Linked DNA regions of Homo sapiens. The protein of the gene in region 4 interacts with the protein of the main gene of each other region in a pairwise test. Each region holds a gene or a part of one and is shown on either strand. Other genes may lie near its edges. The genes, in order: APBB2, NDUFV2, JPH3, VSX2, LRIF1, KIF1B and PRPS1.

Evidence for each region.
Region 1: the proteins of VSX2 (region 4) and APBB2 interact in binary tests that used the Homo sapiens proteins (3 or more experiments, as listed by UniProt).
Region 2: the proteins of VSX2 (region 4) and NDUFV2 interact in a two-hybrid assay, tested with the Homo sapiens proteins (one large-scale study listed by IntAct).
Region 3: the proteins of VSX2 (region 4) and JPH3 interact in binary tests that used the Homo sapiens proteins (3 or more experiments, as listed by UniProt).
Region 5: the proteins of VSX2 (region 4) and LRIF1 interact in binary tests that used the Homo sapiens proteins (3 or more experiments, as listed by UniProt).
Region 6: the proteins of VSX2 (region 4) and KIF1B interact in binary tests that used the Homo sapiens proteins (3 or more experiments, as listed by UniProt).
Region 7: the proteins of VSX2 (region 4) and PRPS1 interact in binary tests that used the Homo sapiens proteins (3 or more experiments, as listed by UniProt).

Annotation. Positions count from the first base shown.
Region 1 is NC_000004.12:40,823,043-40,826,542, forward strand, and holds part of APBB2 (amyloid beta precursor protein binding family B member 2), read right to left. Parts: intron 2,929-3,500; coding exon 2,845-2,928; intron 718-2,844; coding exon 602-717; intron 1-601. UniProt on the Homo sapiens protein: Plays a role in the maintenance of lens transparency, and may also play a role in muscle cell strength. Involved in hippocampal neurite branching and neuromuscular junction formation, as a result plays a role in spatial memory functioning.
Region 2 is NC_000018.10:9,109,199-9,112,698, forward strand, and holds part of NDUFV2 (NADH dehydrogenase [ubiquinone] flavoprotein 2, mitochondrial precursor), read left to right. Parts: intron 1-2,839; exon of another isoform or gene 2,840-3,500.
Region 3 is NC_000016.10:87,644,008-87,647,507, reverse strand, and holds part of JPH3 (junctophilin-3), read right to left. Parts: intron 3,251-3,500; coding exon 2,473-3,250; intron 1-2,472. UniProt on the Homo sapiens protein: Junctophilins contribute to the formation of junctional membrane complexes (JMCs) which link the plasma membrane with the endoplasmic or sarcoplasmic reticulum in excitable cells.
Region 4 is NC_000014.9:74,238,275-74,242,248, reverse strand, and holds the start of VSX2 (visual system homeobox 2), read right to left. Parts: upstream 2,801-3,974; 5' UTR 2,688-2,800; coding exon 2,318-2,687; intron 1,068-2,317; coding exon 983-1,067; intron 1-982.
Region 5 is NC_000001.11:110,957,423-110,960,922, forward strand, and holds part of LRIF1 (ligand-dependent nuclear receptor-interacting factor 1), read right to left. Parts: intron 1-3,500. UniProt on the Homo sapiens protein: Together with SMCHD1, involved in chromosome X inactivation in females by promoting the compaction of heterochromatin.
Region 6 is NC_000001.11:10,294,070-10,297,569, forward strand, and holds part of KIF1B (kinesin-like protein KIF1B), read left to right. Parts: intron 1-1,016; coding exon 1,017-1,096; intron 1,097-1,590; coding exon 1,591-1,697; intron 1,698-2,512; coding exon 2,513-2,596; intron 2,597-2,827; coding exon 2,828-3,008; intron 3,009-3,104; coding exon 3,105-3,177; intron 3,178-3,500. UniProt on the Homo sapiens protein: Has a plus-end-directed microtubule motor activity and functions as a motor for transport of vesicles and organelles along microtubules.
Region 7 is NC_000023.11:107,638,510-107,642,009, forward strand, and holds part of PRPS1 (ribose-phosphate pyrophosphokinase 1), read left to right. Parts: intron 1-785; coding exon 786-969; intron 970-2,392; coding exon 2,393-2,491; intron 2,492-3,500. UniProt on the Homo sapiens protein: Catalyzes the synthesis of phosphoribosylpyrophosphate (PRPP) that is essential for nucleotide synthesis.

The DNA.
Region 1 (3,500 bases), on a different chromosome or scaffold from region 4:
CTTTCCCTGGCAGGTGCTTCACAGAGGCAGAATAGAAAAGTGGGCACAAGTCTGGGCCAGGTTGCCTGGATTTAAGTCCTGATTCCATTGCTTCCAACTGTGTGATGCTGGGCAAATGACTTAGCCTCTCTGTGCTTCAATTTCTTCAACCACGAAACTGAGATAATTTGGGCTGAGGCTAATGTGGCCTCTTCTCAAGACAACCAATAGCTCCTTCTGCTACTGATAGTCACAGGACTCTCCCAAATGGAAGCATCTTCTGCTTTTCATCCCCAGATCACACAGCCCAGGCAATACTGGCGCCCTGAGAGTGAGCGACTACTAGCGTCACACACTCACCTCTAGCAAACAATTTCTCTCTGGGGCACATGAGGAAGACAGAATCAGAAGCACCAGAAGAGAAGTTTCTCAGGCCACAGGAAAACAGAGGTATGCACAGATTTAGACCCAGACAAAGGGCCAAATCTTTCAAATGTAGGCCATCTTAATCACAAGGATGCACAACTCCGGCCTTGACTATGTTCCTAAGTTCCACAGAAAACCACTGTATCTTATACTCACTGTATAAGACACACCAATGTCATCGAAGATTCCTTCTCACCTTTTCACTGATGACAGTCACAGTGGCATCAGCCACGTTCATGTTCACTGACAGCCAGTCCTCCTTGTTGGATGAGGTCATAAGATTTTCTATGGCACTGTTCAAAATATCCATTCCTGGGGACAGAAAAGGATAATTTAAAGTGTCCTAAAGCCACTTACCACACTCAAATGTGGGCCCAAATCACCAATAACAGCTACGCCCAGACTGATCTTTTTTTAATAGACAGGACACTTCATTCTCATGTTTGCTCAACAGGAATGAAATACCAGCTTCTGGCCGGGCGTAGTGGCTCACGCCTGTAATCTCAGCACTTTGGGAGGCTGAGCCAGGATCATTTGAGGTCAGGAGTTCGAGACCAGCCTGGCCAACACGGTGAAACCCTGTCTCTACTAAAAATACAAAAATTAGCTGGACATGCTTGCTTGAACCCAGGAGGCGGAGGCTGCAGTGAGCTGAGATCGCACCACTGCACTCCAGCCTGGGCAAGTATCAGTGAGACTCTGTCTCAAAAAACAAAAAAAGAAAAAGAAAAAAAAGAAATAACAGCCTTTTCAGTAGGAGAGGAGAGTCAGGAGAAGCTCCGGGGACCTGGTGCCTTAGACGCTGTCTACCTATGCAGACCATGGCCCTTCAGCCTCTCTCCACCCTCACTGTCTCTTGATGGCACCTTTACAGTGGATCCCCCCATTGAGTAGGGCCCTTTTGCCAGCTGTTTCCACAGTTTTTCTGGGGGATAGGGGTGGGAGTGACAGCTTTATTGAGGTATCATTCACATGCAATTCACTCACGTAAAGTGTGCAATCCAGTGGATTTTAGTACATTCACAGAGCGCACCCATCACCATCATCAATTTTTTTTTGAGACAGGGTGTTGCTCTGTCACCCAGGCTGGAGTGCAGTGGTACAATCACGGCTCACTGTAGCCTCAGCCTCCCAGGCTCAGATGATCCTCCCACCTCGGCCTCTGGAGTAGCTGGGACTACAGGTACATGCCACCATGCCCAGCTAATTTTTTGAATTTTTTTTGTAGAGATGAGGTTTTGCCATGTTGCCTGGGCTGGTCTTGAACTTCTGGGCTCAAGCAATCCACCTGCCTTGGCTTCCCAAAGTGCTGAGATTACAGGTGTGAGCCACCATGCTAGACCTACCATAATCAATTTTAGAACAGTTTCATCACCCCAAAGAGAAACCCCGTGCCTGGTAGGGGTCATTCTGCATTTTTCCCCCACTCCCCAGACCCCTAGACCAAGGCAACCCTTACCTACTTTCTGACGCTAGAGCTCTGCCTATTTTGGGCGTTTCATATGAACGTAATCACACAGTATGCAGTCTTTTGGGACTGACTTCCCTCATAGCATGTTTTCAGGCTTCATCCACGCTACAGCGCACTTCAGTCCTTCATTCCTTTTTATTGCCAAATAAAATTCCACTGTATGGAAGTATCACATCTTATTTATCTAATTGTCAGTTGATTTGTCAGGACATTCAGGTTGTTTCGCTTTTTGACTCTCATCAATAATTCTGCTGTGAACATTTGCATACACGTTTTTGCATGCACAAACGTTTTCACTTCTCTTGGGTCTACGCCTAGGAACTGAGTTGCTGGGTCTAAAGTAACTATGTTTCACCTTCTGAAGAATGCCAGACTGTTTTCCAAAGCAGCTGCACCATCTTACAGCCCCCTTGGCAGTATATGTAGCTTGCGATTTCTCCACAGCCTTTTTTAGCCCTGGTGAAGGCTTCATCTCCCAGTCTCTTTTTGGCTTGGTATAGCCCAGCAACTACACTCTGCCCCTGGCATGTGAGCTGAATGCTGTGTGTGCCACTACTGTGTCACTCCTTGACAGCATGAAGCCTCCACAGTCCTTTCTCCTGGCCCGCCAGCTGACAAGACACGAAGCAGGTGCCCTGGCCTCAGAGATGGAGGCCTCGTTTCAGAGCAGCGGAGCTCTTCCACGGCCCTGAGTCACACAGCTCTGGACTACTGGGTAAACAAGAAATCCACGTCTGTATTGCTAAAGTCCTGCATGCTGGGGATGACAGGTCAAAGCAGCGGGGCCTGTCCCTCTACTCATCTTTTGATCAGGACCGTTTATGTTCTCTGGCAGGTGACAGTGTGACAGTTTGATTCAAGACAAGGCGTGAGAGTAAACAGCAGACCTCACCCTCCTCGGAGGGCGAACGCCTCCTGTGAGCTCCCGCACACTTGCAAAGTGGAAAGACAATAAACATTTCACATACCGACTGGTTTGTCTACAGGTAACATGCCCAAGTACTGCACGTGGAACTTCTGGACCAGCTCAGTCTTTGGTGTTGGAAAATCTACTACAGGGAACAAAAGCAACACATCTTTCTCAGTGGTTCCAACACACATGTACACAACAGCCGTGGCTCTGCATCATCTGAATGCTCAGGACACGCCCTGTGCCATAACGCCCTATGTTTCTGGATGTAAATGTAACAACTATTCTACAAGAGCAGCATTACTCCAGATATTGGGGCTCTGTTAAAATCCTGTTCAACTTTCAAGATAGGAATGCATGTGAAAGCAGGAAGTGGCATCTATGTGTTAAAGCTGCTACTGTCTCTTTGATGTATATTAAGTAAAGTAGCAGCTTTTGGTGTCCTATTTAATTAGGTGTGGTTGATGCCCAGAGAAAATGTAACCTCAAAGGGCACAATCAGAGACATAGGAAGATAACTGAGTTCCCCCAGTAATCAACCCACGTTTTTTTTTTTTTAGAGACAAGAGTCTCGCTCTGTTGCCCAGGCTGGAGTGCAGTGGTGCGATCTTGGCTCGCTGCAACCTCCATCTCCTGGGTTCTAGCAATTCTACAGGTGCATGCTGCCATACCTGGCTAATTTTTTGTATTTTAGTAGAGACAGGGTTTCACCAT
Region 2 (3,500 bases), on a different chromosome or scaffold from region 4:
GTGACTCTTGCACAGGCAAATAGATATCTTGGTGGATTTAATCTGTAAATATTAGGGATCATCTAAAAGGTATATTCCTTGCCTTAGTTGGCCTCTAATAAAGGAAAAAAGAAGGGTTTTTGAATTGCCTGACCTTAGTCTTGTCTTTCTGACTAATTAGATTACTGCTTCTGTCAGTTTTGTCTTACAGCTTCTTAGTCTCTTATTAACTTCTCTTAGCTGGATGCATTTATAATGCAAATGTCTGATAGAACTGAAAAGTGAGCTTCGTTGGATGGTAGTATTGTTTGAACAACAGAAGAAATTCAGAAAAAGAGTAGAGCCCATGAAAAGACAATTAAGGAATCCTATTGGGGAGAATATAAAACTTTAATTTTTGTCATTTTGAGCTATTGGTATTGCCAGTGACAGTAAAAGGGAAAGGCTGGTAGAAAGAGCACAGGGCCCTTAGATTGAAAGAGCCTGGGCTCAAAATCCAGGTCTGTCACTAATTGTGCGGTATGGGGCAAGTTACTGTCTTTGAGCCTGAGTTTCTCTAAATGTAAAATGGAAATAATGACTCACTACAGATTTTTTAGGAATCGACGAAAAAAAGTATGTAGAAGAGCTTAACACAGAGGCACTCAAGTTTACTTGACTCCAACGAAAAGGCAGTCACTGTTTTGGCCTGCTTAAATCTTTTCTTTTCCTTCTGAAACACTGAAAAAAAAATAAGCTAGAATTCAAACCCACTGTTAATTTTGAGCTGTATATTAGGTTATGATCTTATTTACTTAAAAAAGTTACTTGGTTGCATGCTTTTCTTCTTAAAAAAAGGAAGTTACTTGGATTTTCAATTGGACTCAATTGGAATTTCTTGAGGTATAGACATTTCAGAGTCTAATGAGAAGCTAGATTCTAGAGAAAAGACTAGACTGTACTCAAAGAAGGGGGTGGGTGGGAACTCAGCTTATTCTTTGAATCATTCCAGCCTAGCTAGGTTGTTTTTTCCAGTTTTAAGCCTGGTCCTGGAATGCCTCTTTATTTCAAAGTGAAACAAAATTGAAATGGCCCAGTAAGTAGTGTAAAGATGTTAATGAGAACTTTTAATGTTTTATTCCTTTATTGAAAGTGTCTGACGTAGACATTACAATGAATGTAAAATAGGTGATATTCTTTAAACACACCAAAAAAACAATTTTCAAAGCCATTTTCAGGCCACCTGTAACTTGATAGGGATGAATAACAGTTTATGCCAGTTGAAAAAAACCGAGAGCTAAGATTTATCAGTTTATCTTCACTATTTAGTTTGTTTCTTTCTTTATTGTTTGTTTACTTACTACTTTTTTGAGACAGGGTCTCACTCTGTCTCCCAGGCTTGGGTGCAGTGCATGATCATGGCTCGCTGCAACCTCAACCTCTTGGGCGCAAGCGATGCTCCCACCTCAGCCTCTCAAGTGGCTGGGACTACAGGCATGTGCCACCATGCCTGGCTAACTTTTGTATTTTTTGTAGAGACAGGGTTTCACCATGTTGCCCACGCTGATATCAAACCCCTGGCTTCAAGCGATCTATGGGGCTTGGCTTTCCAAAGTTCTGGGATTATGGGTGTGAGCCACCGTGTCTGGCCAGCTTCTTTTATTTTATAAACATTATCTCAGCCCTTCTTATACAACTTTGAAGAGGTCGACTTCGGACTTTGAAATTAAGTTGCTCAAATGTTATGCTAGTGTGTATACGTTCAGGTTTTTTGCAGGAATAGAAGAGAAGGGTGGCAAGGATTAAAAAAAGATTAAATAACTTGCATCTTTCTCTCTTAACAGGAGCATTGTAAGCCAAGGAGGCAGGGCTTTTCATTTCTTATCTGCCTGCCTGTATATATGGAGGCCTGATTTTCTTCCTTAAACTCCTTGGTTTCTTAGACCTACTATGTTCTTTTAAAGCTTTGATGTCATCAAACAGTCAGGTGGCTAATAATAAGGTCATGGCCTTTGTAATCATCTGGCCCTAGGATCTAACATAATTTCTGCCAATAATTAGTGATGTGACCTAACCTTGAGAAGTTTTCATAACTCATTTAAATTTCTGGGAATAATACCCACCTTGCAGGAAACTTTAAGAATTAAATAATGTGTAAAAAGCTTAGTGCCTGACACATAGTACTTCTAATAATAATAGCTAATGATAGCCAACACTAATACAGTACTTACCATCTGCCAAGCAGAATATTAAGCACTTTACATGAAGTACATCTTTTTTTTTTCCCCCCGAGACAGAGTCTCACTCTGTTGCCCAGGCTGGAGTGCTGTGGCACGAGCTGGGCTCACTGCAACCTCTGCATCCTGAGTTCAAGCGATTCTCCTGCCTCAGCCTCCTGGTTAGCTGGGATTACAGGCACGTGCCACCACGCCCAGCTAATTTTTGTATTTTTAGTAGGGATGGGGTCTCATCATGTTGGCTAGGCTGGTCTCGAACTCATGACCTCAGGTGATCCGTCCGCCTCAGCCTCCTAAAGTGATGGGATTACAGGCATGAGCTACTGTGCCCGGCCTGAAGTACATCTTTTAATGCTCTCAAGAACCCTATGAAGTACATGCCGTTATTTTTCTGTTTTTATAAATGAGGAAACAGGCTCTAGAGCTGAGCTTTTAGCCATTTTGCTATATTGTCTCTCCATACATAGGATATTTATGGAATATTAGATAACAGTGATACATCCCACCTTCAGAGGTGCTAGAATGTGGAAAATGTGTTTATTAGAAATGATGAAATTGACATTTCATATACTAGAACGTGTTTGGTGTTGGTCATCTTTTACACCACACTCAGCATCAGAAGGGTTTTTTTTTTTTTTTTTTTGATAGAGAATCTCGCTCTGTCGCCCAGGCAGGAATGCAGTGGCTCGATCTCAGCTCACTGCAACCTCCACCTCCTGGGTTCAAGCAATTCTCCTGTCTCAGCCTCCCAAGTAGCTGGGACTACAGGTGTGCGCCACCACACGCGGTGAATTTTTGTATTTTTAGTAGAGATGGGGTTTCACCATATTGGCCAGGCTGATCTCGAACTCCTGACTTTGTGATCTGCCCACCTTGGCCTCCCAAAGTGCTGGGTTTACAGACGTGAGCCACTGCGCCTGGCCAGAAGGATGGTACTTTTAAAATTAGTTTGGTGATATTAGACAGGATGTTTTGGATTGAGAAAAAGGGATCAGCCAGAAGACTTACAGTAATGCACAGACATGAAATAATGTCTGAAATAGTGGTGATAGTAAGACAGGGAAAGAACTAAAGACTTCATTGGGTTTTTTTGTTTGTTTTTGTTTTGAGACAGGGTCTCACTTTGTCACCCAGACTGGAGTGCAGTGGTGTGATCTCAGCTCACTGCAACCTTCACCTCCCAGGTTCAGGCGATTCTCCCACCTCAGCCTCCTGAGTAGCTGGGACTACAGGTGTGCGCCACCACACCCGGCCAATTTTTGTATTTTTTGGTAGAGATGCAGTTTCACCACGTTGGCCAGGCTG
Region 3 (3,500 bases), on a different chromosome or scaffold from region 4:
AGCATGGGCTGCTGGGCCTCAAAGGCTGTCGGGGGGTTGGCAGGGGGTGGGCTCCGTCAGTTTCACAGCTGCACCAGCCTGCAAACCCATCCTTTCCCTCTCACTCCCTCCACCCGTCTGTCTGTCCTTCTGTCCATTAAGTAAAATGCCTCCCCAGGAGACACAGGGATGCTGGCCATGCCAAGGCTGGCTGGCCAGCGTCCCAAGGGCTGGGGACTCAGTAGGAGCCGTGCCCACCCCACCCTGGCCCCGGCTCCTTTGCATGGGTCTCAGGTCTCGCCCTCCCGGCCCAGCCCCTGGGCTTTCACCCCAGCATGATGCCCACTTATACGTAGGCATCTCCCCCAGCAATGCTCCACAGAGCCCCTGGGCCCCCCAAAACCCCAGGAAGAGGTTGGATGCCCCAGGAAGGGAGCTGTTACCACCTAAGCTTCACAGGCCTTCAGAGATTAGAAGTTGAGGTCCAGAGAGGCTGACAACCTGCCTTGGAGCAGCTCCTCACCTGTGCTGCCCCCAGCCCTGTCCATGCCACCTGGGCTCCTTAATGGGAACCCGCTTCTCTTAATGTCTAGGGGAATTCGTCTGAAAACTATCTCAGGTCGCAGGTCCCCCCAGTCCTACAGACATCCACCCAGTGCCAAGGCTGTGAAATAAGCTCAGTCCTGCAGGGCACTGTCCACTAAGTCCTCGAGCTGCTGAGAACTCATGAACCAATGAACTCATGAACCAATCTGCAGGTCACACGGAAGCTGCCACGAGCTTCCTCAATTCCGTGACGCCGCTGTCCCCCAGCCCCCAAAACTGCTTCTTGTCCACTAGGGTCAAAAAAGCAACTATACAAAATAGAAAGGGTCGAAAAACAAAACACAGAGGAAAGAAATTCACCAAAATGCCAAGGAGAGCGCTCGGCCGATCCATCAGACCAGAGCTAATGCTGCTTTCTCCCTTCTCAGTGTTATTTATTTTCCTGTGGAACAAGTATTACATTTATGATGGAAAAAATAACTACTGATTCTAATTTGTTCTTAAAACCCCAGATGAGTAGTCACACGTGGGCTGCTGTTTATTTCCCTGCCTGAACATTTCTGAGGGAGCAGGGAGGGGCAAACAGCGAGTTTGGACCTCGGTGTCAGGTAGTAATTCCATGTTTCTTTCAGCTTCTTGGAATCGATCTTGATTCCCTCTAAAACAATAGAAGTCGCGAGCAACATATTCTGCCAACAAACCGCAGCCACCATTTTTGTTTTTCACTATAGATCAAAGGTCACTGAAAATCAGAACCAAATGGGCTGAACTTTAATTAGCGACAGGTCGGGAAGGGCTGAGCCGCACCCAGGCTGGGAGCTTTCCTGGAGGAACTCCAGGTCTGCCCCTGGCTGAGAACACAAAGCCATCCAGAAAGACGCAGGGGAACGTGCCCTGGGAAGCCTCCTGCCTGGGCAGCCCATGGACTCCCCCGCAGCTCCCAGATCCCTGCCCCAAGACTCTCCGGGCTACCCCAAGGGCCCTCGTCTGGCCCAGGAAAGCAAATGCCGGTGGAAAGCAAAGGCTCTGGGTTTTCTGAAATGCCTTCCCAAGTCTTGACAAAGCCCTTTAGTAACCTCAGTTACTTTAGAACCCAAATGCCTACCTGTGGGGCCCGTGGCTTTCCACAGGGGAACTTCCTCCAACCTGCAGCAGGTGGCTCCTGCCAGCCACAGCTTGGCGGGGACCAGCCCCTGGCTCACACACTCACCTCCACAGGAGCCAGACCCTGGGCACCTTCCTCCAGCCCTAAAGGCCCCATCCTGCACCCACCCCTAAAGGTACCCAAAAGCCACGTCGATCCCACCCACAGTCACCTCTGGACCCATTCCTTAGGGCCTAGAGGCCCCACTGGACCCCAAATTCCGTAAGTCATGCAGCCGATTCAGAACAGCGGCTGCCCCCAAAGCACCAGGCCTGCATGAGCCCCTTGCCAGGCACTCGGAATTGGCCTCCCAACTGCTGCCATCTCCCAGGGTCCCGGAAGAATCTAGATCGCAGGTCTGGGTAGCTGAGGCAGCTCCTAGCCACCTCCCACAGCCCTGCAGTGCTGGACCTGCCACCCCCACCTGGTGGTGTCACCCCTACTAGCTAGCACAGCAGCACTCCAATGCATTGTACTAACGGAACAGACCACCTTCTTTATTCACCAATATTTTACACTAAACATCAGCATATAGAACAAAGAGACACTGCTCAGTTTAAGGAGGCTGTAGGCCTCTACACCCCCACAAATCAACCATTCCTCTGCACCAATCCTGACCACAGTCACCTCTGAGAACCTCCAGGGAACCCTAGGGTTCCATGGGGGCATAGTTTGAGAAACACCAGTGTAGGCCTCAAACTGGGCCTAGCCCAAGGCCTTGAGCGACAGCAGGACTGAACAGACTGGGCTCACAAACACCTTCTGGGCACCAAGAAGGGCCCCCCGCCCCCTCGCCCTCCTACCTGGAAGCCGCGATCTCAGCCTTCTGCTTGGCGATGGTGGCGGCCCGCTCAGCGGCCTCAACGGCGCGGTCCACCTTCTCGCGGATCTTGCTGGCCCGCAGGGGGATGAGGTTCTTGCGCTTGCCGCCGACGAGGATGTTCTGCTTGTACTTGCCCTCCTCCTTGGTGCCGTCCGGGAAGGTCATGCAGCCGTAGCCATGGCGCCGGTTGCTGGCCCACTCGCCCTCGTACTTGAGCCCGTCCGAGCGCTGGCTCACGCCGAAGCCGGAGCGTTTGTCGTTCTTCCACTCGCCCACGTAGGTCTCGGTGGTGGTGGCGTCGATGTCGTCCTCGATGACCGCCAGCTCGGCCTCAGCCTCGCCCAGGCTGATGGTGGAGTGGATGTCGCTGGCCGTGGAGCTGACGGTGCTCATGCCCGCCTCGCTGCGAAAGGAGCTCTGCTTGCTGCGTTGGCTGGCCAGGCTGCTCTTGGACTCCGACTTGCGCAGCTTCAGCCCACTCAGCAGCGAGCGCCGAAACAGCCCCTTCTTCTTGCTCTTGAGGATCTCGGAGTCACTGTGGGCCACGAGCACGAAGCCCCCGCGGGACACGGCCGGGCTGCCGGCCACCGCCGGAGAGGCGTCGGGATGCAGCGCCGTGCCGTTGGTGTGCTCGCTGCGCAGGGAGTTGATGGACGTCCTCAGGGGTGAGCGGATGACCGCGGCCATGCCATACGGGACGCTCTGCCGGACGCCGTAGCCCTGGCGCATGCCACCGACCCACTGGCCCTGGTAGGTCCCTGGGGAGAAAATGAGAGAGGGGTGAGTGCCCAGCGACAGAGGAGGGGGCACAGCCTGGCCACGGACAGGGTTGAAGCAGCCACAGTCCTGTCTGAGCTTCCTGTTGTTTTGTGTTTTTTGAGACAGGTTCTCGCTGTGTTGCCCAGGCTGGAGTGCAGTGAGACCATCACAGCTCACGACAGCCAGGAACCCCTGGGCTCAGGCGATCCTCCTGCCTCAGCCTCCTGCGCAGCTGGGACTACAGGCGTG
Region 4 (3,974 bases):
TGATGGGGACGGAGTGGGGTGCGGGGAAATAGCTCCGAGGTGAGCGCCGGGGCAGCACCTGCGAGCAGCACCCGCAGAAAGGCAGGCAGATTTTTGGTTCTTTCTCCTTTATTTCCTTGAAAACCACCTTACAAATGTACCCAAGGAACTGGTAGCAGTGCGGCTGGTGCGGAAGGGAATGAGGGCGGGGGTGGGAGAAGGGTAGGTTACTTTTCAAGATATACCTGTCGGCATCTACTGAGTTTTAACTTTGTGCAAGTAATTTCCATTTAAAGACAAAAACAAAACAAAACAAAACAAAACAAAACCCTTTCTAGTCTGTACCCCGATGCAGTCCACCCTACTCCAGCTACGGCTGGTGGGACCGTCCAGTCTACATCGCCTACCACTCCATTTTGCAGACGAGGAAACTGAGGCTCACAGAAGGGAAGCGACTCGGTCAGAATCACGAATGAGCAGAAGCCAAAAGAAAATGCTCTGTCAGTGCAGAGATCGCTCCAGCTTTGGAGAACGGTGGGAGCAGAAAGCTTAGGGAGTTGGCAGAGAGGACAGGGACCCCGGGAGAGAAATGGGGGCGGCGGTTGAGGCCGAGGGCAAAGAACCGGCTCTGGCAGGAGGTGGGAGCTAATCTGCCCGCCGCCGGGTCTGTGTGGCTCTCAGAATGTACTGGTGCGGGGATCTGGGGACCGCCCCCACTCTGTGGCTCAGTTTGGCCTGTGTTGGAGCCTTTCCTTTCTCCTGAACAAGGAGGAGAAAGCCCGAACCGGGCCGCTTTCCCGGCGGCCACTCATCCTGCTCAACCGGTGCCGACGCCAAGGCCCCCGGGCAGATTCCGCCAAACAACCCGTGGTCTGCGCCCTGGCACGGCCTCGGACCTCAGATCCGTTGTCGGCGAAAATAGGGTCCGAGAGACCCGATCCCGGAACGGGGGACGGCAGCGGGGTGCGCGGGCAGGAGAGGTAACAGAAAGCGGGGGCCTCACCTGTGTCGCCGCTTCTTCCGTTTCTTGGTCTGGTTTAAAGCAGATTTGGACATTTTTCGATCGCTGGAGGAAACATCTTCAGAATCTGAAAAGCGGGCGTAGGGACATGCGGCAGAGTGGGGGACGCGCTCCGCTGTGCCCGAAACCCGCGAGGGCCCCACCCCGGGCTGCCTCCGCGAGCGGCGGGGACCTGCTCTGTCTCCCCAGGAAGCCTGCGGGCGCCCCGGTGGCCGTCCCATCCCTGAGCTCAGGCTGACCTCTCCCGCGCCGGGGCCCGAATCCGGAGGTTTTGAACAGATTTCGTTGTAAGAGAGGCAAAGGCCCCGGCGCGCTTGGGACCGGGACGACGGAGAGCGAGGCAGCCTTAGGGGGCCGCAGAGATCCCCGGCAGCGCTCGCGACCCTGCTGCGCCCTGCCCTGCGCGGCCAGCCCCAATGCCCCGGGCCGGAAAGTTGGCCTCGAGGAGCGAGGAGCGGAGCGGAGGCGTGGGGAGCTGGGCTCCGGGAAGACTGGGGGCTGCCGAGCACCGTCCTTTTCGCAAGGCGGCACAATGCGTCCCTACTCGAGGCCCGAGAGCCTGCGACGCGCTGGTTTTCGTTGCCTTTCCACGTAAAACAAAGTAAAACGCAACGAAAAATCGGGGGAATTGCCAAGCTCAAACAGGAATCGGAGGTTCGAGCGGGCCGCGACACACCTCCCGGAAAGCAGCGCGGGGAGAAGGCGGAGAGGTCACCCAGGGTCCCCGAGCCCGCGCGTCCCCGGGCTCCAGTATATAGTGGCGCTTACGTGGGAGAGGATGGCGGCCGCTTTAGCTGCCGCGATGGCCGGGTTGTCTGAGCTCGTGGGGGTGAAAAATAAACCCCAGTTGACCAGCGCGGGATTTGGGAATCAGACAACTTTGGACACCAGGGATGGGGCCGGAGCCGGAACAGCATCGGGCTCGAGGAGTGCGGATCCTACACCAGGCCGGGGCCGCAGTGGAGCAGCGGTGCTGGGGCCCTCCGACACGGCCGGCGACTCTGCACCACGGGCTCCGACACCCCAAACCCAGTTTTCAGTGGGGCTCCAACAGAGTGCCGTGGCCGAGCCCTGCCCGACGCGGGGACTGGAGAACTGCGCGGCCGCCCGAAACGCTTGGGGCCGAAACCCTGCGGACGCCGAAGCATCCTCCCGGGCCCCATCACCAGGCGCGTCGGCCCAAGGCCCAGGCGGCGACCCCCGGCCTGGCAGGAACTTTTCCGCCTGGAGGCCTGGTCCAGCAAGCGAGAGCCGACGGCGCGGGGCTCCCGGCTGTCGCCCCCCAGTCAGGCAGCAGCGCAACCTCTCCTCACCTACCCGAGCTGGCCGTCTGGCTGGTGTCCAGCGGCCCCGATGCTCTGCCCAATGGCTGCAAGTGGACGCTCTGCGGGTCGGACAGCACTTCCAGGAAGGTGGGCTGCGTGTAGAAGCCAGGGAGCCCCCCGGGCCCCAGAAGCCCCATGCCGCCCACCCCCGCGGGGCTGAGCACTGAGCGCGCCGCCAGCAAGTGCCCGGGGGCCAGGCCGTCGAGCGCTGCCCGCGGGTGGGAGCTCGGGGGCTCCTTGTTCAAGCCCAGGATCTCCTGGATGCCGAACCCAGTGCACCTGGCCGGGGCGCCCCCCGAGGTACTCTTGGCCACTGTCTCGGATTTGGGCTTGCTCAGCGCTTCCCCTGCTTTCCCCGTCATCTCCCTGTTCTTTGGAGGGGCTGAGGCCGCAGGTCTTTAGCTCCCCCCACCCCCCCGCCGGGCTTCCCGCTTCGCGAAGTTGGTCCCAGGTGCCCCCTCCGGTGTCTAATGCTCTGGAGCCCAAGGAGATTCCCCTTTTATCCAACCAGGCGGCAGCCCAAGTGGGGTCAGAGCTGAGCAGCCAATCACCGGGGCCAGGAGCGATTAGGAATTCCAAAAAGCTGGCAGCTCCCGCCGCAGGCAATGTCGAATGGCCAGGGTGCTGGGGGTGGAGCACCGGGTGGGCTCTGCAGGATGCCCATGGGCAGGGACCCCAGGGGCCGAAGTGAGACAACCAGGTTCAGGTTCAGGGCTGTTCCGGGAGGCAGAGTGGCTTGGGGCTCTGGGCAGATTCTGGCAGGGACAGGTCCCTGAGGTCAGGTGGAAGGATGGGCTAAGGGCAGAGGTGAGAGACTGGGAGACCTCCTTCCCTCAACTCCTATGCAGGTTGGCAGCATCAGGGCGGCCTGAATATGGCACCTCTGTGTAAACGGTTGAACAAGGGAGAGGTAAGTGCTGGGGCAGTGTGTGTGGTGGTAAGCTGGGAAAAGATCAGGCCAAGGTGTGCAGAGGGTGATGTAGGGGTAGGGAAAGTTTGCTTCCCCAGCACAAGGTATAATGCCTAGTTCGGAAGAGCTACTCAACACATATTGGCCCAATGAATGAATGATAAATGGGTCAGAAAGAGGGGTCCCTGGTGGGAAAGAGGAACAGTGATGATTACTTTTGGAGAACAACCATGGACATCCAAACCTCTTCCTAGAGTAAGCATGAAGCATGCCCAACTTTCATGGGAGGACTTGATTCTTCCACCCAATTCATTCGACTAATATGTATTGAGCTACTAGCTCCGACCTGGTAGCCAGGGGTTCCGCAGTAAATCAGACAAGGCAAGGGCCCTGCTATACTTCAGAGTTCATTGAGCAAACAGAATGAAGAGGAAGGGATTGTTGATGTGGAGGGAGAGGAAGGAGGAAGCGGGTGAGAGGAAATTAAAAGGTAAGCTGCTTTCCCCTGCACTCCACCACCTCAGCTAACTCTTCTGTGACCTTCTTGGGGCTGGGAACTATCTTATCGACCTTGAGGCTCCCTTCTTCACTGCGCCTAGCATATGGTCAGTTCATGGTAGGTTCCTTGAATTGAAGGCACCCTATGGGGAGATAAGGACTAGGTCCATTGCTTTAAGCAGAGATTGGAAAACCAGGCTGGGAAGATTCCATCCAGGATTTCTTAGCCAGTCAGGTGCAA
Region 5 (3,500 bases), on a different chromosome or scaffold from region 4:
ATCGCGCCACTGCACTCCAGCCTGGGCGACAAAGCAAGACTCAGTCTCAAAAAAAAAAAAAAAAAAAAAAGACTGCAACAATTCTCACGGCTTCAACTATTTTCAACTATCTTCTTTGGAATAATGACTCCCATAGTTATATCCTTTTATTCCTGTCCCCTACTGGAATTGACATCAGTTCCATATTTGTGATGTCTTACCAAACATTTTAATCCCATCACTTTAAATCTACGAAGTTAAAATTACTCTCTATTGAAAAGTAGTAGTCTATCCTACCATTCAATCATATGGCAGCGCCAATATTTTCCACATCATATAGGTTTCAAATCACCTAGTCATTGCTGATTTGTCTTTATCATCATTCTTATTTACTTTAAATTCATCCACAGAACCTTGCATATGTCCTTACAAAAGGCAAACATTTAATAAATGCATACTGAATCATCAAGTCTATACGGTTTTCTTTTTAACCCATTTCATCCATCTTTTCTTTCTTCATCATTGTGACTTCCACCATCTACATGAGATCCTCATCAGATGTGTCTAGCACTCATCATTCTCATCCCTACAGTATTTTGCTGATGTTGTTTTTCTGATTGCAGCCACTATTGACTATTATGTATCTCTGGCAGACTAAAATTGTTTTCATCCTGTTATCTCTTGTTCAAAGTTTTAGTATTCATCATTGCCAATTCAGCTGGACGCGAAAATCATCTACAATCTAGCTCCAACCAATCTCTACAACAATACCACCCACAACTTCTCAATGTGAAATCTCTGCTCTTACCAGAGAGATCTCTTTGCTATTCTGGAATATGCCATGTATATTACATTATTTACTCAAAGTATTATTATTTTTCTTCTCCAACAATATAAAATTAGTTTCCAATTCTATCTTTTCCATAAAATATCTGCCAGTCACTCCAGCTTAATTTCTTCCAACTTGGAATCCCGAATGTACTCCCATTGGTGCTATTAATGTTGGAAATTATATAATGCTTTCTTTATTGACTTTAATCTATTAGCTAATTTTTTAAAATGAGTATTGTTTCATTCAATAAGACTGAAACTCCTTAAGGTGAGAGGCTTTATAATTTATTTTGCAAATATCCTTCCAATACCAAGCATAGTATTTTATATGATGTCTATATTTCTGCTTTATAAAAAAAACTATACTGTGTGAGCTATTTTCCAATCTGATCACTAAATTTTTCCCTCTCTTTTCCTCTATTTCACCTCCAAAAAATAAAAAAAAGGAAGAAAAATTAAGCTTCTTCCATGTCAGTGTATCAGTGAGAGTCACATAATCTACCACAGACCATAAATTCCTGCAGGGTAGATTATCCTATTCATATCTATATACTCCGCATCTAATTCAGAAACTGGAAATTGCACACAATAATGTTAGCTGAATTGAATCCTACAAGGTATAATTTTTTTAAAAATCCATGATTTCTTGGCAACAAAATGTAATGAGTTCTAAAAATTAATCTGCAGAATGCTAAGAAGTAATAACTCAGGATGAAATTCGTACTCCTTCTATCAATATACAGTTTTTCATATCTAGAAGGAGCCTTCCATTGAAGAGATTAAATAATTAAAGTCCTACAAAGATTCTGTTTTCTGAAAGATCATATTCTGCGGGCTAATGTCAGAACTAAAACTAGAACCAGATTCTGCATCCCATTTTCTAGTCTGGTCACCTAATTACTTTAAAGTAATTACTTTAAACCAGCTGGTGTTCAAACTGAGAAACTACATTTGAAAAATAATACAGTTTAACAGTTTAAAAGAGAAAAGAGGAACATATTAGAAAGATTACAGGCTACTAATTCTGGTTCTTATAATTACAAGTTGACTAGAAAATGTACTTATCCTCTTTGAATCTGTTTCTTCATTTGTTAAATAGGGGAAAATAAAGCTTACTAGGAGAAGTAAATGAAATAACTGCCTGGGAGCATAACAGTTATCATCTTCCATTAAAATATGCAATTGGTCTCTGAGAATAAGGTAAGATAAGGTCTTTTAAAAATGTAATGAGAAATATGGCCGGGTGCAGTGGCTCATGCTTGTAATCCCAGCACCTTGGGAGGCTGAGGTGGGCGGATCATGAGGTCAAGAGATCGAGACCATCCTGGCCAACATGGTGAAACCCCGTCTCTACTAAAAATACAAAAATTAGCCGGGCGTGGTGGCACACGCCTGTAGTCCCAGCTACTTGGGAGGCTGAGGCAGGAGAATCACTTGAACCCAGGAGGTCGAGGTTGCAGCGAGCCACTGCACTCCACCTGGCGACAGAGCGAGACTCCATCTCAAAAAAAAAAAAAAAAAAAAAAGAATGAGAAATTTAATAAAAAGGCACATTAAACATATTGGTAATGTTATATAACTTCTGACATTTTTTACTATTCTAATATTGATATGAGGCATTCATATATTAGAAATAGACTAATAAAAATGTTGAAGGCTGATGAACATTTTATAGATATTTTTGCAAAATATATTTTTTTCAACTGCTAGGAAATCCTTTTCTTACTATCTATGACATAACATTATATACATATAGAACATAATATATCTAAGTACATAACATAGTTATCTATCCAATAATATGTACCATGTATTGCGTACATGATAGATATACCAGTTGTTACTAACTCTAATCCTAATAAACAGTCAAGAAAGTTATGAACTGCCATTCCCATTTTATACTTGAGAAAATGGAGATTTGGAAACATTTAATAACTTACTTAGAATTACACACTCCCCTTGAGAAAGCTTATCTACTTTCTATATTTACTTTAGCATAACCCCATTATAACAGGGTCCAAAAAATTCAAATGTATAAACTAAGAGATTAATGACAGATTTCATTTAGACTCTATAGTATGTGTGTCTGTCTCTCCCTCACACACACACAGACACACTCAAATCACAAAATAAAACACTGTACACAACAAAATGCATACTGAACTGACAATGAAGCATCATCATTCCAGTCAAACCAAACCCCCTGCTGAGAACACTTAAGTTTAGCTCCCCATTTGAATACAAATGGTTATGGGAAGATAGCTGCCAATGGCCAATCACATGATGTCTTAATTCTTATTATTGTAGGATATATAATCACAGGCTTTCATTATAGTACCTCTAAGGTGATGCTTCCCAAATCTCTAGTCTCAGCTCTGACTCAGCCTGAGTTTCATATTCAAATATCTGACTGCTTTCTTGATGTGTTCCTCATCTCAGTTAATTTACCAATATCCACCCAGAAAACTGGCATCATAATTGATCCCCCTTTCTTCCTGCCAATTCATTAACGAAGTCGGTCTATTTTCCCTTCTATATTTCTTTGAATCCAACCCCTACTGTACTGTACCAGCTAGTTCAGGCCCTCAGAATTTCTGAAAAGACAACTGAAATAGGATCCTTATATGTAGATCACTCACCCTCAAATCCAGACTGCCAACGTTATCTAAAATGTACACCTGTGTCAGTCT
Region 6 (3,500 bases), on a different chromosome or scaffold from region 4:
ATCTTTTATAGTTCCTTTTCCTACCCCCTCATCTGACTCTTCTTTCATTCTTCCACATTTGCTGGCACTCTCTTGAGTAGATTTTGGCCTCAAGACCATGTGACTTATTTTTGGATTCCAGTGGGTTATTTTCACTAAAGAAGGTTGGTTTTTTAAAAAGATTTTAGAAATATTAGAGTTAGATGAAGAGGATTGTTAGAAGATGTTTATCTTATCGAATATCAGTAATTTTACTTTTTTCTTTAAGGTAAAGACTAATAAATTAAAATCTTTTAAGGTAAAGACAAATTAATAACTGGGATCAGAAGAACTGATAAAAATTATAGTGGGAAGTGGTGGGGGGGTATGGGGACATTTTAATAAAAGTAAATATTTCTTGAGATTTTTACCCAGGCATTTACAAAAATTATAATTATTCCGTTCAGAGAATTGGCCTGTCATTTTTTCCTTGTGCTTTGACCTTATCAAAAATTAGGTCTTGTTTTTTTATCCCAGAACTCATGTTTTAAAATGGAATGCCAGGCACAGTGGCTCACTCCTATAGTCCCAACACTTTGGGAGGCCAAGGAGGGTGGGTCAGTTGAGGTCAGTAGTTCGAGACCAGCCTGGCCAACATGGTGAAACCCTGCCTCCACTAAAAATAGAAAAATTAGCCAGGCGTGGTGGCGAACACCTGTAATCCCAGCTACTTGAGAGGCTGAGGCAGGAGAATCACTTGAACCTGGAAGGCAGAGGTTGCAGTGAGTCAAAATCATGCCGCTGTACTCTAGACAGAGCGAGACTCTGTCTCAAATTAATTAATTAATTAAAATAAAATAGAATGCACTTGGTTCCGTTTGGTGAGGCCTGAAGAGAGTGTTTTCTCTTTATTATGGAACCGCAACTAGGGATAAAAAGAAATCCCTCTCTAGGCTCTGTGGAGAGTTGGAGAAGCCTGGCCTCTTGTAGGCCCCTGTTGTTACCACAGCTCTCTCATGGTGCCCTGCTCCAAATTGATCATCTGTAATCTTTTTCAGACCCCACATCTTGTTAACCTCAATGAAGACCCACTAATGTCTGAGTGCCTACTTTATTACATCAAAGATGGAATTACAAGGTATATTTATTTCCTGTTTTGGTCACTTCGTGTGTTTTCCCCCTCTTAGATAATTGAATAACTAAAGGGAAGGGGTTGAAAAAATTAACGTAATGATTTGCTGTATTTTTTGTCTGAAATAGTTACAAACTATGCTCTCTTTCCAAATAATGTGTTTTTGCCACTGGAGCCAGTTACTATGTAGTTTTTCTCTGAAGACCCTAAATAATTTTTTTTTCCTTTAACAAATATACATTCCTTAGGGATTTTATTTGACTCATGTCTTTATAATACTGTATGAGTTACATTGGTATATCAGTGCTCCTTGTTTCTTATTCTGATGTAGAGAGGTTGATCATATGTGAGGATAGAATTCATAGTTGAAAGCTTCTGATGCAACAAGGCAATACCTTTTTTGTACGTACCAAAGGATATTCTTTGGAATAAAGAGGTTCATTGTTTGTAGTGCTTTCTGTGTCTGAATTTCCCTGGGAAACACTTTCTCTTGTGTTCAGGGTTGGCCAAGCAGATGCTGAGCGGCGCCAGGACATAGTGCTGAGCGGGGCTCACATTAAAGAAGAGCATTGTATCTTCCGGAGTGAGAGAAGCAACAGCGGGGAAGGTGAGCATTCCTGGCTGGAGCTTCAGCAACAACATTTTCATTTTATATTATGAGAAATCCTTAAGACTTTGTATTCTCTGTCTATCAGTAGTACTTTCTTATACAATCTAATTCTGAAAAATGGAGAGACCTGGGCTGCTTATGAATGCAGAGATGGACAAGGCTGCTTTACATGAAAATAGCTTGGACAAAAGAAGCCCTTTTTTACTGCCAAGAACTGAGAAGGACATAGGCAATTAGGCTTGGTCTGGAATGTTAATTATTTAATAGAAAAGTAAGAAAATAGCAGATATCCTGGGTAATAGGAGATTTGAAGGACATTAAGTCAACCCAGCAGAATTTATTTTTATCTAAAAGGGAAGAAAAAGTCAGTCTTGATTTTTGCCTGGGTTATTAACAAAACAACAATTTAATGGTTTTTTTCTGTTATATAAGTCACTCATTCCCTTATCAAAATATTAGCTTCTCAGTCTTTAGTTTCTGGTTATTACCTATATCTCATCCTTACAATTTCTGATGGTTCTGAGTTTTATTGACTGAACCGTCAGAGATCCCTGAAACTAATATTTCCTATCATCTTCTTAGGTTTATCAAATAGAGTTAAATGTTCTTGTGTTAGCCATGGCCACAGATAGCCTCTTCTATTGGGGCTAGTTCTGGTACCCCAAAATGAACTACTGTATAGACAACTTCAGCCACTTGATTGATTGCAGGGATTTATTCTACTTACTGCAAATCCTGATAAGCAACTGCTTTCCATTATTTGATTCCAATAGTTTGTAATGATAACATTAGTTTGTGTTTGTTCCTCTTAGTTATCGTGACCTTAGAGCCCTGTGAGCGCTCAGAAACCTACGTAAATGGCAAGAGGGTGTCCCAGCCTGTTCAGCTGCGCTCAGGTGAGACTGGGAGAGGTTTGCCATCTTCAGCAATGTGCACATGGCTTCTGTGACAACTCTAATTTTTGGCTGTTTAAAGGCTGAAGTAATAGTCAGCATTAGGATTTTTGTTCTTGTAAAAACAACAGCTCTGAAAGCTGTCTTTTCACATTAGGGAGGGGTGAGGTTGTTAAATAGATACTATATATTAAAAAAATTATTTCTTAACCCTATTTTTCTGTTTTGTGCTAGGAAACCGTATCATCATGGGTAAAAACCATGTTTTCCGCTTTAACCACCCGGAACAAGCACGAGCTGAGCGAGAGAAGACTCCTTCTGCTGAGACCCCCTCTGAGCCTGTGGACTGGACATTTGCCCAGAGGGAGCTTCTGGAAAAACAAGGAATTGATATGAAACAAGAGATGGAGAAAAGGTAATGCACAGTTACGCAGCCCATATGACTGTTTCTTCTTTTAAACATGTAATACTAATAGCATTCTTGAATTTTTTTTTTTTTTTTTACTTCTAGGCTACAGGAAATGGAGATCTTATACAAAAAGGAGAAGGAAGAAGCAGATCTTCTTTTGGAGCAGCAGAGACTGGTAGGAGTCCTGAATCTGCTAAACTGTTGGGAAAAGGGCAGCTTGTTCCCATACTTTCCCTGTTCCACAGAGCAGTACTCACCCAAATTGCTTCTGTCTCAATGATACCAAGCACTATTCTTTAATTTCCTTAATGGAGAATGAACTTAAATCTCCCGGTAGCCTTAGCCTGAAAAAATAGTCCACAGAGGTACTCTTTTGGGCTTTTTATGTCTTAAAGCCAAATCTTAACTTCTGTTACAACCAAATACTTTTTAAGGAAATAGAGCTTTTCTGGTAGCCTTTGCCTCTTGATAGTGGTTTTGGAATTTGCTTCAGTGGTG
Region 7 (3,500 bases), on a different chromosome or scaffold from region 4:
CTGGGATTATAGGCGTGAGCCATCACGCCCGGCCATATGAAATAATCTATGCACATGTTCCCTTATACTTTATTGTTATTTATTTATTTTTTGTAGAGATGGGGTCTCACTGTATTACCCAGGCTGGTTTTGAACTCCTGGGCTCAAATGATCCTCCTTCTACCCTGCCCCCTGCTCCCCAAAGTGCTGAGCCACCATGCCAGGCCCTCCCATATATTTTATTTTATTTTATTTTATTTTTGACACAGAGTCTCACTCTGTTGCCCAGGCTGGAGTGCAGTGGTGTGATCTTAGCTCACTGCAACCTCCGCCTCCTGAGTTCCAGCGATTCTCGTGCCTCAGCCTCCTGAGTAGGTGGGACTACAGGCGCCTGCCACCATGCCCTTCTAATTTTTGTATTTTTAGTAGAGATACATGGTTTCGCCATGTTGGCCAGGCTGGTCTCGAACTCCTGACTTCAAGTGATCCACCCACCTTGGCCTGCCAAAGTGCTGGGATTATAGGCATGAGCCACTGCGCCCAGCCCTGCCATATACTTTAAATCATCTCTAGATTACTTATAATACTTAATACAATATAAATACTACGTAAATAGTTGTTATACTGTATTTAGAAAATAATGACAAAGAAAAAAATCTGTACATGTTCAATACAGGTGCAATTTTTTCTCCAAATATTTTCAATCCACACTTGGTTGAATCCATAGATGTGGAACCTATGGATATGGAGGGCTGACAGTACAGTGGTTTAAAATCTATTTCATGTTCTTTCTTTCCTCATTGTAGTGTGGAAATTGGTGAAAGTGTACGTGGAGAGGATGTCTACATTGTTCAGAGTGGTTGTGGCGAAATCAATGACAATTTAATGGAGCTTTTGATCATGATTAATGCCTGCAAGATTGCTTCAGCCAGCCGGGTTACTGCAGTCATCCCATGCTTCCCTTATGCCCGGCAGGATAAGAAAGATAAGGTAGGAGCAGAATTTTATTTTTTGAGCAGAGGAAGCAGGAGCACTTGCCCCAAATCACAAATAAATTCCAAAATTATCAAATATATATTTAGGGGGAATTTTAAAAATCACCTTTTCTTAGGTATTACCCTATCTTCAAAACAATAGAAATATAATTGGTTTGTATAAAGCAACACATTTGTAGTCTGTATTTTATTACAGTGATACATATATAACTTTCAGTTAGCTCACTGGTATTTTTAATTGTATCAGTAAGACTAAGCACCAACTCCTCTGGAGTACTGGAGTATATTTTTAAAATTACGGTAGATCCTCTCAAACTGTAAGATTGGGATCCTAGTTGTGACCTCTTCATAAAACTTGAAGTCTGTTATATGAATACTTGATCTGATAGATACATAGATAGATAGATAGATAGATAAACTATATATATCTCTCACCTTATCCTGGTATATTAGAGGATAAGGCATATACATAAAACTTTGCAAGTCTATTGTAATTAATGCCCAATTTTACACACAATGCCTCGAAGAAGGTCAGATATTTTTATTCCAACAGAGTATAAAGTAAAGGGCATGGGCCGGGTGCGGTGGCTCACGCCTGCAATCCTAGCACTTTGGGAGGCCGAGGCGGGAGGATTGCCTGAGCTCAGGAGTTTTGAGACCAGCCTGGGCAACGCTGTGAAACTCCGTCTCTACTAAAATACAAAAGAAATTATCCAGGCGTGGCGCTGCGCGCCTGTAGTCCCAGCTACTCGGGAGGCAGAGGCAGGAGAATTGCTTGAACCCAGGAGGCAGAGGTTGCAGTGAGCTGAGATCATGCCACTGCACTCCAGCCTGGGCGATAGAGCAAGACTCTGTCTCTACAAAAAAAAAAAAAAAAAAAAAGGCATGCATGGACTTTGCTATTTTACAGTGCAGCAAGTATGTTTTATTTGAGGAGTTCATAGTTGTTGGAAAGTTGACCTCCAGATGAGTAAGTAGTGATGTGATTTACAAAGGAAACTATAATATCTATTCTGTGATGTATCTTCAAACCTTGACATGTTAGGTGTTAAAGGTTTACATATGTATGTGTTGAAAGAGATTTTAATAAAATTATTTTTTAAAGTCTGCCTAGTTTGAATAATTGAGCATTGGAAACACTTGAATAGGATTGAAAATGTGTACATTAAGAAAACAAAAGTTAGGAAAGCATTTTCTTTATTGATAAGTGTATCCTGATTTGGAAAAGTGATGTTCCACTTAATATTTGTTCTGAATTATGATCCACTTAAAGTCAATGGACATGTCTCCTTCTATGAATTTCTGGGTACCATAGTGCCTTTAACATAGTAGGTACACAATAAATAGTTTCTTGAGTAAATGAATTGTTTTTCAAATTGGCTTTTTGGTTTTTCTTTTCTTTCCTCCCCTCCATTTAGAGCCGGGCGCCAATCTCAGCCAAGCTTGTTGCAAATATGCTATCTGTAGCAGGTGCAGATCATATTATCACCATGGACCTACATGCTTCTCAAATTCAGGTATCAGTGGAAGCTAAATATTGGTGTTTGAAAGGTGGGAGGAAAGGACTGATGATGCTGAAGACTGCAGAGAAGCCAAAAATTATGCCCAAGTACATCTGAAATAAACTAGATATCAACAACATTTTAAATGTGTTCACCTTAAGCATACTTCATGATCTTAGTCATTTCAGGTGGTTAGATAGGGAGGCAGTCTAGTTTTATGGGAAGAGCACTACTTTGAATAAAGGCTCTGGTATTTACTAGCTTTGTAAGCTTGGGAAGGTTACTTAATTTCTCTGAACATATACTTTTTCATTATTGTGAGTATAAAACATTAAATTCATATTATAATGCCTGGCCCATGACAGGTACTCATAGATAGGAGCTGTTATTATCATTCTTATTCTCCTTGAATATTCATGGAGTGCAGTGGCACGATCTTGGCTCACTGCAACCTCTGCCTCCTCAGTTCAAGCAGTTCTCCTGCCTCGGCCTCCCAAGTAGCTGGGATTACAGGCACCTGACACCAGGCCCAGCTAACTTTTTTGTACTTTTAGTTGAGATGGGGTTTCACCATGTTGGCCAGGCTGGTCTCGAACTCCTGACCTCAAGTGATCTGCCTGCTGCAGCCTCCCAAAGTGCTGCGATTACAAGCATGAGCCACCGTGCCTGGCCTCATGGTCTTAAATTTAGAGCCACAGATATTGGAGCCTACTTTCCAACATAAACCCAAAGTAAGGGGGGTGGAATACCACCTTTATTTTATATTTTTTCAAAGAGATTTTTCAAATCATTACATTTCAAGCTTGTGGGAATTCAATGAAGTACATTGGACAGGGACTGTACTCCTTTTATGGAAAGGAATGACTTAATTGAGAAATACAACTAATTTGTATCAACTAGAATTAGAACACAGATCTCCTGATTTCTAATTATTCACTGTGACTATTTATCATAAGTAGCTTCCATTAAGTTTATATGCCATAGCATCTCTAACTGGTTTATCCATTAGCTTTTACTCCTTAAC